Regions from separate parts of the Homo sapiens genome. Here regions 1, 3 and 4 are each linked to region 2. The links come from fine-mapping of genetic effects on gene expression. A gene starts in region 2. Each other region holds a variant in brackets. All regions are shown on one strand. Distances are from middle to middle.

Region 1 (2,683 bases), 27 kb before region 2:
TTTTTTCTCACATTCTCAAAATAAAATATTAAATACATAAATTTTGAGTCAAGTGTATTAAGGTGTAACTTATATCCAATAAAGTACAGTTGAATGAGTTTTGTTTTTTTTGAGACGGGGTCTCACTCTGTCACCCAGGCTGGAGTGCAGTCGTGTGATCGCGGCTCACTGCAACCCCTGCCTCCCGGGTTCAAGCGATTCTCCTGCCTGAGCCTCCTGAGACACTGGGATTACAGGCACATGCCACCATGTACGGCTGATTTTGGTATTTTCAGTAGAGACGGGGTTTCACCATGTTGCCCAGGCTGGTCTCGAACTCCTGACCTCAAGTGATCCTCCCACCTCGGCCTCTCAAAGTGCTGGGATTACAGGCATAAGCCATGGTGCCCAGCCAGCACATTTTTCCTTATGGGGTTAACAGTGAGTTTCAGACAGTTACATATACAGTGGGGGTGGGGGGATAAATAAAAGTGAGGGGCCTTCCTGCAACAAGCCCCCGGGGCTGAGCTCAGAGGGGCCCAGCAGCCTGAGATGCAAGGTTGGCTCTTGGTCACCTGCAGTTGGCTAAAGTCCCATTTCATGGCCAGTGCTACTAAGGCTAGAGACAAAGGACCCAGTGGGCTCAAATCTGGCCCTGGATGCTGGACCTCCATCTTCTCACCTCAAAAGCAACGATAAGGCCAGGCGCATTGGCTCGCACTTGTAATCTCAACACTTTGGGAAGCCGAGGCAGGAGGATCGCTTGAGCCCAGGAGTTTGAGACCAGCCTGGGCAACATGGCAAGATCCCATCTCTTTAAAAAAAAAGTTTTAGCCTTGCACGGTGACATGCACCTATAGTCCCAGCTACTCGAGAGGCTGAGGCAGGAGGATCACTTGCACCTGGGAAGTCCAGGTTGCAGTGAGCTGCGATCGCACCACTGCACTCCAGCCTGGGCGACAGAGCAAGATCCGGTCTAAAAAAAAATAAAAGTAAGGATAAAAGAGAAAGGTGAAGGCCAGACGCAGTGGCTCACGCCTGTCACCCCAGCACTTTGGGAGGCTGAGGCGGGCTGATCACTCGAGGCCAGGAGTTCAAGACCAGCCTGCTCAACATGGTGAAACCCTGTCTCTACTAAAAATACAAAAATTAGCCAGGTATGGTGGCACACGCCTATAATCCCAGCCACTCGGGAAGCTGAGGCAGGAGAATCATTTGAACCCAGGAAGCAGAGGTTGCAATCAGCCGAGATCGCACCACTGCACTCCAGCCTGGGCGACAGAACAAGATTCTGTCTGAAAAAAAAAAAAAAGACAGAGACAAGGTCTTGTTCTGTCACTCAGGCTGGAATGCAGTGGTGCGATCATGGCTCACTGCAGCCTTGACCTTCTGTGCTCAAGGGATTCTCCTGCCTCAGCCTCCTGAGTTTGGGACTATAGGTGTGCACCACCATACCTGGCTAAGTTTTAAATTTCTAAGATTTTTTTTGTGATGTGGGAGGCTTCATCACAGGGGGATCAGGTTTAGCAAATACACATCCAGGCACCCCGTTAACTTCAAATTTCAGAGAAACAACTGTCTTAGCTTTCTGCTTTGTGGTAACAGAATACCACAGGCTGGGTAATCTATAAACAATTGAAGTTTATTTGGCTTGTGGTTCTGGAGGCTGGGAAGTCCAAGATTGGGCCATATCC[G/A]GCGAGGGTCTCCTTGCTGTGTTATCACGTGGTGCAGGCATCATCTGGTAAGAGAAACACGCCAGAGAGCAAGGGAAGCCCCAAACAGCCCTGCCTTGCCCTGCCTTGCCCTGCCTTGCCCTGCCTTGCCTGCCCTGCCCTTCCCTGCCCTTCCCTGCCCTTCCCTGCCTTGCCTTGCCTTTTTTTTCAGACAGAGTCTTGCTCTGTCACCCAGGAGTGCAGTGGTATGATCTTGGCTCACTGCAACCTCCGCCTCCTGGGTTCAAGCTACTCTCTTGCCTCAGCCTCCCGAGTAGCTGGGATTACAGGCACATGCCACCATGCTCAGCTAATTTTTTGTATTTTTACTAGAGACAGGGTTTCACCGTGTTAACCAGGATGGTCTCGATCTCCTGACCTCGCGATCCACCCGCCTTGGCCTTCCAAAGTGCTGGGATTACAGGCGTGAGCCATGGCACCTGGCCAGCCTTTTCTTTTAAATTTTTATTTATTTTTACATTAAAAAAATTTAAAGACAGGTTATTACTCTTGTTGCCCAGGCTGGAGTGCAGTGGTGCAATCTTGGCTCACTGCAGCCTTGACTTCCTCCTGGGCTCAAGCAATCCTCCCGCCTCAGCCTCTTGAGTAGCTGGGACCATAGGCCCACACAACCACACCCAGCTAATTTTGTTCTTTTTTGTAGAGATGGGGTCTCACTATACATAGATATACTATAAATATATACTATATATTCATGTATGTATCTATATATATGATATATATTTTCATATATTATATATATATTAGAGACATGTATTTGTCTCTAAAACAGAGACAGGGTCTTGCTCTGTCTCTCAGGCTGGGGTGCAGTGGTGCAATCATAACTCACTGCAGCCTTGAACTCCTAGGCTCAAGCGATCCTCCCGCATCAGCCTCCTGAGTAGCTGGGACTACAGGTGCATACCACCACACTGAGCTAATTTTTAAATTTTTTGTAGAGACGGAGTCTCACTATGTTGCCCAGGCTGTTC
Region 2 (2,683 bases):
AGGGAGACTAGGCCACGGTTACAGTACCAGGATCGGGCAACCTTTTCCCGAGCCCCCGCTTGAGGTGCCTGTCGGTGTAGAGGAAAGTGACATGGATGAGTCACTTTGTGCAAACCACAGTCGCTGTGGAGCTTCCAAACCACCCCCAGCTGAGGGAGGACTTTGGGCAGGGCTTGGTTTCTTTTTAACAATCCAGGAACTATCCGTTAAATAGAGCCAGGAACACAACCCATCTTATAAAGCCAGAAATGAAATGTATAAGCCAAGTGTTTGGTGTGTAATTCACACTTGGTAAGCCCTAGCTCTGGTCTATTTCACAGAAGAGGCATCTGAGGCTCAGAGAGGGCTTCAAGACACTTGCCCAGAGTCACACGGCAAATGGGTGCAGATCCCAGTGGATTCCACACGCATTCCCACACCTGCCTCCCTCCCTGCCAGGGCCCACCTATGACCTCCATCTTATTGGTTGGTGTCGCCCAGCAGCCAGGCAGGCCCCTTCCTACAATACTCCCAACCTACCTCCCCAAGGGTGGCCACTCACCAGCAGGGCTGGCGTGTTGATGTCCACAGGCTCGATGACAGTGAACACCTTCCTTGCCCGGCGTGCTGGGACCCAGGGCCGGTGCAGGGTGGCCTTGATACAGTAGCGGACACTACCGTGTTTGCCCTCGAAGGATGTCACCAGGGTCCTAGGGTGGAGGGACGGGACTTCAGGGGACAAGATACAGAGACAAGCAGGCAGGGAGAAGGAGACACAGACACTCCGGGGGCCTCCCAGGGGGAGAGTCTTGGGGCTCAGAGGTGCCCAGATATCCAGTATTGGAGGTACCAATCTGGAAGGGGCTGCAGGCTTAGGGCAACCCTGCACCCCAGAGGACTTACGGGGGCAGCTGGAAGCTGAACAGGAACTCATGGCGCCCAGGAGGCAGCGTCGTGGTCTCCCCGGTATCTGCAGGTAGGAGAAAAAGGAGGCGACTGAGCGGTTGCGCTGGGGTCCCAGGGCTGACGGAGGTACCGCCGTCCAGGTGGTGGGAGGCACACAACTGGTGTTGGAGCAGGGGTCCTCCATCCGTACCTGGCGCCAGGAGCGTGGCGCGGTGGCTCACGACCTCCACGCGTTCACTGTAGCTCTGCGTGTAAGCCGTGCTCGAGCCCGCGCTGCGCGACTCGGTCCAGTGCACGTGGGCGCGGCCCCGCGCGCGCAGCCTCAGGGCACCCACACGCGCGGCGCTTGACAGCTCCAGCAGCACCCGGCCCGCCACGGCCTGGCCGCCGCTAAACACGGGCTCGACGCCCGCGGTCGCGCCGTCCAACTGCACCGAGAACGCTTTCACCTTGTCGAATAGCATCGCGTCCGGGGTGCGAACCCACGACAGGCGGAACCTGGCCTCGAACTCGCGAACCGGCAGCTCAAGATGCCGACGCTGCAGCCTCAGAACGCAAAATCGCCGTCAACGCGCAGGCGCGCTCACCAACCGGAGCAGAAAATCCCCGCGCCGTGCGTCGGCGCCGCTTTTATACGGCAGGGCGGGGGGGGGTGGGGTCACCGTCTCTTCCCCGCCCCGGGAAGGGACTCCACCAATAGCGCGACAAGGGGCGTGGCTCTGCCCAGGCGTGGAGCAAAATAACAAACGCCCCTGCTCACCGCCGGCTGCCCCCTTCCCTCGCGGACCCCGGGGAGAAACTGAAGCCCTTAGGCTGCCAGAGCTGGTCTCTCGCGGACCCCGGGGGTAAAGAGGAAAAAAAGAGGTGCAGAGGCAGGGCCCAGGCCTGAGGTCACCTAGCAGAGCCTTCAGCCTCTCGGCTTAATCACTCACCAGCCGCCCCTCGTTGACGTGACTCGAGGCATGTCCAGCCCGATTTGGGGCGGGGGACTCTCGCCCCAGTTGAGGGCCAGAGAGCCTATGACTGTTCCAGGCCTGTTTCCCCCGCTATGCAAAGGGAGAAGTGGAGGAGGTGGGTGGGACCGCCCTCCACACTGGTGCCTGCTGCACCCCTTTCCTGATTCAAGTCCCGCTTAGCTGGTGGCTCTGGGCAAATGACAACCTCTTGGAGCCTCAGTTTCCACCTCTGTAGAGCCGGGAGAAAGTAAAAATCAGTCCTGACCTCAGAAGGTTGTGCATGGATCATCGTGCAGCCCCAGCTGGACTCCTCCAAGAGCCTCGCTCCCGGGTCATCAACCTGCTCTTGACATACCGTCACTCGGTCGCGCCTCGGCGCATTCGCCCAGGAGCGGTACCTACGAAATGATGTTCCCTTCCCAATTTTCAGCCTCTGGCAAACCCTACCTTCCCCGCAGCCCTTGTGCCTGCTCCAGTCATCCTCAGCCCCCGTCCCGCCACAGAGCTGAATGCAGGGGACGCTCGGGCACCCCCAGGTCCACAGCTGCGGTGTGGCCACGGGACGGCGTGACCTCTCTCTGGGCTTCAGTTTCCCCAAAGAAAAGTCGCATGGAGTTTCTCCAGCGGGAGTTGCCTCTGCGTCGTCTGCGGGACGCTGGCGCCCTCTCGTGGCAGCGTAATGCGCTGCCGCTGAACCCATCCCCTGCCGTGACTGTCCGCCTCTGAGCCTGGCTCAGGAGACTTCCACCACCTCAGTGAGGTGTGTGGGTGGAGGGGGCGGTCATAAACAAACACGGTCACCCTCAGCCCGTGATGGGGATCGGAACAGGAACGACGGAGTT
Region 3 (2,683 bases), 22 kb before region 2:
CTCCATAGAGATTTCGGTAGATCTTTGCTGCGACACAAGGTAGCTTTGTGATTAGATCCACAGAGTCTTCATAAATCAACTCCCAGTACTTGGTTCGGCTGATACCCCGTGCATATGCTTGGGCAAAGTTACTTTCACTGTTGAGGGCTGTAACAGCTGCACTGAGCTGAGACATGGGGTGTAGATTGGTGGGAAAGTTGTCCAGCATGGTGACCACATGGGAAGGCAGAGCTGCCCTCTTTGCCCACTCTTTTGAGAGCCAAGATACCTGTTCCTCTGTTGGGATACATCCAGTTACCAGCAGCCAAAATAAGCCCTCAGGCAGGGGTTCTTCCCCACCCTTAGCCTTGGGTAGCAGTTTCTGGCATTCAGGGATACTAAAGCCTCAGAAACGGATGCCCTCATCAGGATCAAGAACTGATGTTTCATAGACCAATCCCTTCATGCCTCTCATGCCACCATACATCATGTCCACAGTGATTTGGCCCACCACCTTCTTGCCATGTTGCTGCCTGAAGGTCTTAATTCTGGCCTGCTCCTTAGGTATGAGGTCAGCCAATATGTCTTTCAAATTCATGGAGGAAGCACTGGCATGCTGGGCTGCAAGAACAAGACAAGATGCATTCTTGGTTCCCAAGAGCCGGGCGGCCGCAGTAAGTAAAGCCATGGCGGGCGATCTCCGGGATCTGGTGGGGAGGTAAGAAGGGGAGAGAGCTGCGGCAGGAACAGGAGCCGCCGCCACTGCACCAGAGGCCGCGCCGACAGGTTGACAAGGTTGAAAGGACTGCTTTGAGGATTAAGTTTCAAACATATGAACTTTGGGGGACCATTCAAACCATAGCATCAATGAATAATTTTTTTTTAGTATAAGTATATCCCAAATGTTGCATGGGATATACTTACAGTAAAACCAAATTCAATATTGATCTGAACTTCACATTTAGCTGAGTAGCCTATATTTTATCTGGCAACCTGGCTTCACCATCATGCCCATTTTACAGATGAGGTGGCAGAGGCCCAGAAAGGTTAAGTAATGTGCCTGAGGCAGCACAGCCAGGGACAAGCAGAAGGAGAATCTAACCAGGATCATGGGTCCCACAGCCTTCAGGGGACTCATTCCCCACCCTGGCTAGAGGTGGCCGCAGGAGAGAAGCCCAGCTTGCCAGGACCTCAGTACCCTGTAAACACCTGGAGAGGTGCCAATCCTACCCGCCATCTGGACTTGGGTATCTGGAAGTGGGGCTGACTCATCCCCTGTAAACAGCCAGTCTCCTGTCACTGTAAACAGCTGGCATCTAGAGACGCTGTCACAGTGCCCAACTCACAGTGTGAC[A/TTA]TCCATGACCCGATACTTTGCCATCAGCCTGTCACTCGATACTTAGTAAACAGTATCCTGAGAGTGGACAGTAGTTGGTGGTTACCGCGGTGCCGTGGGCCCCAAGGCAGGGTTGGACTTAAACCCAGGTTCTGACACCTGATTAGCCATCAGAGCTTGCTGTGTTCTGATACTTTGTGAAAAAAGACTAATCCTGATACTTGCTATCTGTCAATGATGAAACCCTGTTAGCCATAAACCTGTCCTCATATTTTATCAGCTGGTAACTTTAAACAAAGTTCTGATACTCTGTAAACACAAATCATGACACTTATGACCCATCAGGGGTTGGTAAACTTCAGCTTTAACCATGACCCCAAAACAGTATTCAATTTTTTTTCCGTTTTTTTTTTTTTTTTTTTTTTTGAGACAGAGTCTCACTCTGTCGCCCAGGCTGGAATGCAGCAGCGTAATCTCGGCTCACTGCAACCTCTGCCTCCCAGGTTCAAGCTAATCTCCCACCTCAGCCTCCCGAGTAGCTGGGACCACACCCAGATAATTACTGTATTTTTAGTAGAGACAGGGTTTCACCATGTTGGCCAGGCTGGTCTAGAACTCCTGGTCTCAAGTGATCCGCCTGCCCCAGCCTCCCAAAGTGCTGCTGGGATTATAGGTGTGAGCCACCGCTCCTGGCTCCTTTTTTTTTTTTTTTTTTTGAGATGGGTTTCACTCTTATCCCCCAGGCTGGAATGCAGTGCCTTCATCTCGGTTCACTGCAACCTCCACCTCCTGGGTTCAAGCGATTCTCCTGCCTCACCCTCCCGAGTAGCTGGGATTATAGGCGCCTGCCACCACGCCCAGCTAGTTTGGGTTTTTTTTTTTTTTTACTTTCTTTCTTGTATTTTCAGTGGAGACAGGGTTTCACCATGTTGGCCAGGATGGTCTCCATGACCGGCCCTGGCTCCCTCCTTTTTTTTAGAGACAAGATCTCTCTCAGTCACCCAAGCTAGAATGCAGTGGCGGGATCATAGCTCACTGCAGCTTCGAACTCCCAGGCTTAAGTGATCCTCCCACCTCAGCCTACTGAATAGCTGAGACTACAGGCATCCCAGCTAATTTTTAAAACTTTTTGTAAGGATGGAGGAGGGGGTCTCCCTATGTTGCCCAGGCTGGTCTTGAACTCCTGGCCTCAAACGGTCCTCTCACTTCAGCTTCCCCAAGCACTGGGATTACAGGCAAGAACCACCATACCTGGCCTACATTTTAAAATGACTGAAAAACTACCAGAGGAAGACTATTTGATGACATGTGAAAATTACATGAAATTCACACTTGAGTGTCCATGAACAAAGTTTTCCTGGGATACAGCCA
Region 4 (2,683 bases), 41 kb before region 2:
TGACTTGCTTTTATTTTTTTTTTTAATTTTTTTTTTTTTAATTTTTTGAGACAGAGTCTCACTCTATTGCCCAGGCTGGAGTGCAATGGCGTGATCTTGGCTCACTGCAACCTCCACCTCCCAGGTTCAAGAGATTCTCCTGCCTCAACCTCCCAAGTAGCTGAGATCACAGGCGTGCGCCACCCTACTATGCTAATTTTTGTATTTTTAGTAGAGACGGGGTTTCACCATGTTGGTCAGGCTGATCTTGAACTCTCTGGCCTCAGGTAATCCGCCCTCCTCGGCCTCCCAAAGTGCTTGGATTACAGGAGTGAGCCATCGCACCTGGCTTGTCTTGCCCCTCTTTGTCTCTTTCTCCCTGTGCCCCTCTCTCTCTATCTTTGTGTTTTGTCTCTCTGTCTCTCTCCTTGTCTCTTTCTTTGCCATCTTTTTTTTTCTTTTTCTTTTTGTAGAGATAAGGGTCTCATTATGTTGCCCAGGCTGGTCTCTAATTCCTGGCCTCCAGCAATCCTCCCCCCTCAGCCTCCCAAAATATTTGTGTCATCTTTCTCTTTATCTCATTTCTCATCTCTCTCCCTGTCTCTCTCTCTGTCTCTTTGTCTCATCTCTCTGTCTCACTTCTGTCTCTCTGTCTCTGTCTCCCTGTGTCTCCCTTTCTCTCTTTCCCTGTTTCTCTGTGTCTGTCTCTCTGTGTGTTTCTGTCTCATCTCTCTCTGTCTCTGTTTCACCTGTCTCTGTGTCTCCCTGTGTATCTCTCTGTGTCTCTGTCTCTCACTGCCTCTGTCTCTCCTTGTTTCTCTGTTTATTTGTCTCTTTTTTTACTTTTGGAGACAGAGTCTCGCTCTGTGGCCCAGGCTGGAGGGCAGGGGCACAATCTCTGCTCACTGCAACCTCTGTTTCCCAGTTCAAGTGATTCTCCTCCCTCAGCTTCCTGAGTAGCTGGGATTACAGGCCCCCCACCATGATGCCTGGCTAATTTTTGTATTTTTGTAGACACGGGGTTTCACCATGTTGGTCAGGCTGGTCTCGAACTCCTGACCTCAAGTGATCCACCCGCCTCGGCCTCCCAAAGTGCTGGGATTACAGGCGTGAGCCACTGTGCCCGGCCCCACTTCCATTTTTAGGTGGGGAAATAGGGGCTTATTCCTGAAGAGTCTCGTGCAGGTGTCCCAGCCCCAGTGGCATCATGGTCACCCTGGTCCAGCTGCTGGGCTCTGTGGCTCTCCGGCTGTCCTGGGCCTCCCATTCTAGGGGCCTGTCCCATAAATGGTCAGCCCAGAAGGTTCCACCCTCACATACTGGATGGTGACACCCCCACCTCCCAGAGCTAGTTTTCCAGCAGGCAGTCTGGCGGGAAGCCCAGGCCAC[T/G]TCCCCGTGGTGTTGGCTGCTGCCCGGTGCAAGCCGGGAATGGGGACCGGAGGTGACGTTTAGGGCTAGGCTTTGGGCTCAGGTTTTTTTTCCTCTTCCTTTTTTTTTTTTTGGTATATAAACTATTTGTTTTTTTGCGACAGTCTTGCTCTTTCGCCCAGGCTGGAGTGCAGTGGCATGATCTCAGCTCACTGCAACGTCTGCCTTCCGGGTTCAAGAGATTCTCCTGCCTCAGCCTCCAGAGTAGCTGGGTCTACAGGCGTGTGCCACCACACCTGGCTAATTATTTGTATTTTTAGTAGAGACAGGGTTTCACCGTGTTAGCAGGATGGTCTCAATCTCCTGACCTCATGATCCGCCCACCTCGGCCTCCCAAAGTGCTGGGATTACAGGCGTGAGCCACCGCGCCCGGCCATAAACTATTTATTAACAGATAAGGCCTACAGACTTATTTCTTCTTGGATACACCCACGGTACAGGTACGGCCATGGCGGCCAATGGTCTCGGTGTGCTGGCCTCAGACATGAAGGCCCCAGAAGTGGTGCATCCCTCTATGGGCCGGAATCTTCTTCGGTTGCTCCAGGTCTTCACGGAGCTTGTTGTCCAGACCACTGGCTAGGACCTGGCTATATTTTCCATCCTTTACATCCTTCTGTCTGTTCAAGAGCCAGTCTGGGATCTTGTACTGCTGTGGATTCTGCACAATGGTGATCACTCATTCCATCTCATCCTCCGTGAGTCTCCCGCCCTCTTGGTGAGGTCAATGTCTGTTTTCCTCAACACCACATAAGCGTATCTTCCATCCACACCTTTAATGGCAGTGATAGCAAAGGCTATTTTCCACCACCCATCGATGTTGGTGTTGAGTACTCCCAAAATATGCTGGAACTTTTCAAGGATCACTAGAGACACGGTGGCAGGCTCTGGGGTTCCATACCAGGCACCAGGATCATATTTGGGGTATGGAAGCCCCACATTGCCCTCATCCTCTCTGGCTTTCGTCATGGGGGTGGTGGGCATGAGGAGGAAGGGACCCAGGCCTTTGGCATGAGGTTCCCTTCTTCAGCAAGCCCCCCACTTCCTGGATCGCTGGGGACCCCCAGCCCTGGGTACCTCCCTCCAGCCTAGCCTTGACCCTGTGGGAACAAGAATATCTCTATCCAGCCTGGACCTTCCCAAGCTGGGGCCTCGAGCATTACCCCAAATAAGGCAGGCACCTGGATGTGGCCAGGAATGAATGAACATGAATGAACAAATGAATCGTATATAATCTTACAAACTCAGAAACGTAAGGCCATACAAATCTAAATCTGGC

The links. PIP is the estimated chance that this variant, and not a neighbour inherited with it, causes the effect.
Region 1: its variant is fine-mapped to the expression of ARRDC2 in whole blood (TOPMed, PIP above 0.99).
Region 3: its variant is fine-mapped to the expression of ARRDC2 in esophagus mucosa (GTEx, PIP 0.92).
Region 4: its variant is fine-mapped to the expression of ARRDC2 in whole blood (TOPMed, PIP above 0.99). The same link has a PIP of 0.9 or more in thyroid.

What each region holds. Positions count from the first base shown.
Region 1 is chr19:18,034,249-18,036,931 of GRCh38, reverse strand. No RefSeq gene overlaps it. Among named protein-coding and RNA genes, the nearest start is that of ARRDC2, 27 kb to the right of the region's middle. The variant G/A (reference allele first, on the strand shown) is at 1,674.
Region 2 is chr19:18,006,977-18,009,659 of GRCh38, reverse strand. It overlaps ARRDC2 (arrestin domain containing 2), which reads right to left and starts at 1,490. Exons shown (of 8, transcript NM_015683.2): 1 at 1,076-1,490; 2 at 883-949; 3 at 542-689; 4 at 1-68. The coding sequence starts at 1,349. RefSeq lists an enhancer at 1,217-1,436.
Region 3 is chr19:18,028,613-18,031,295 of GRCh38, reverse strand. It overlaps the pseudogene CSP3. Among named protein-coding and RNA genes, the nearest start is that of ARRDC2, 22 kb to the right of the region's middle. The variant A/TTA (reference allele first, on the strand shown) is at 1,334.
Region 4 is chr19:18,048,234-18,050,916 of GRCh38, reverse strand. It overlaps the pseudogene RPS18P13. Among named protein-coding and RNA genes, the nearest start is that of IL12RB1, 37 kb to the left of the region's middle. RefSeq lists a silencer at 1,388-1,549. The variant T/G (reference allele first, on the strand shown) is at 1,369.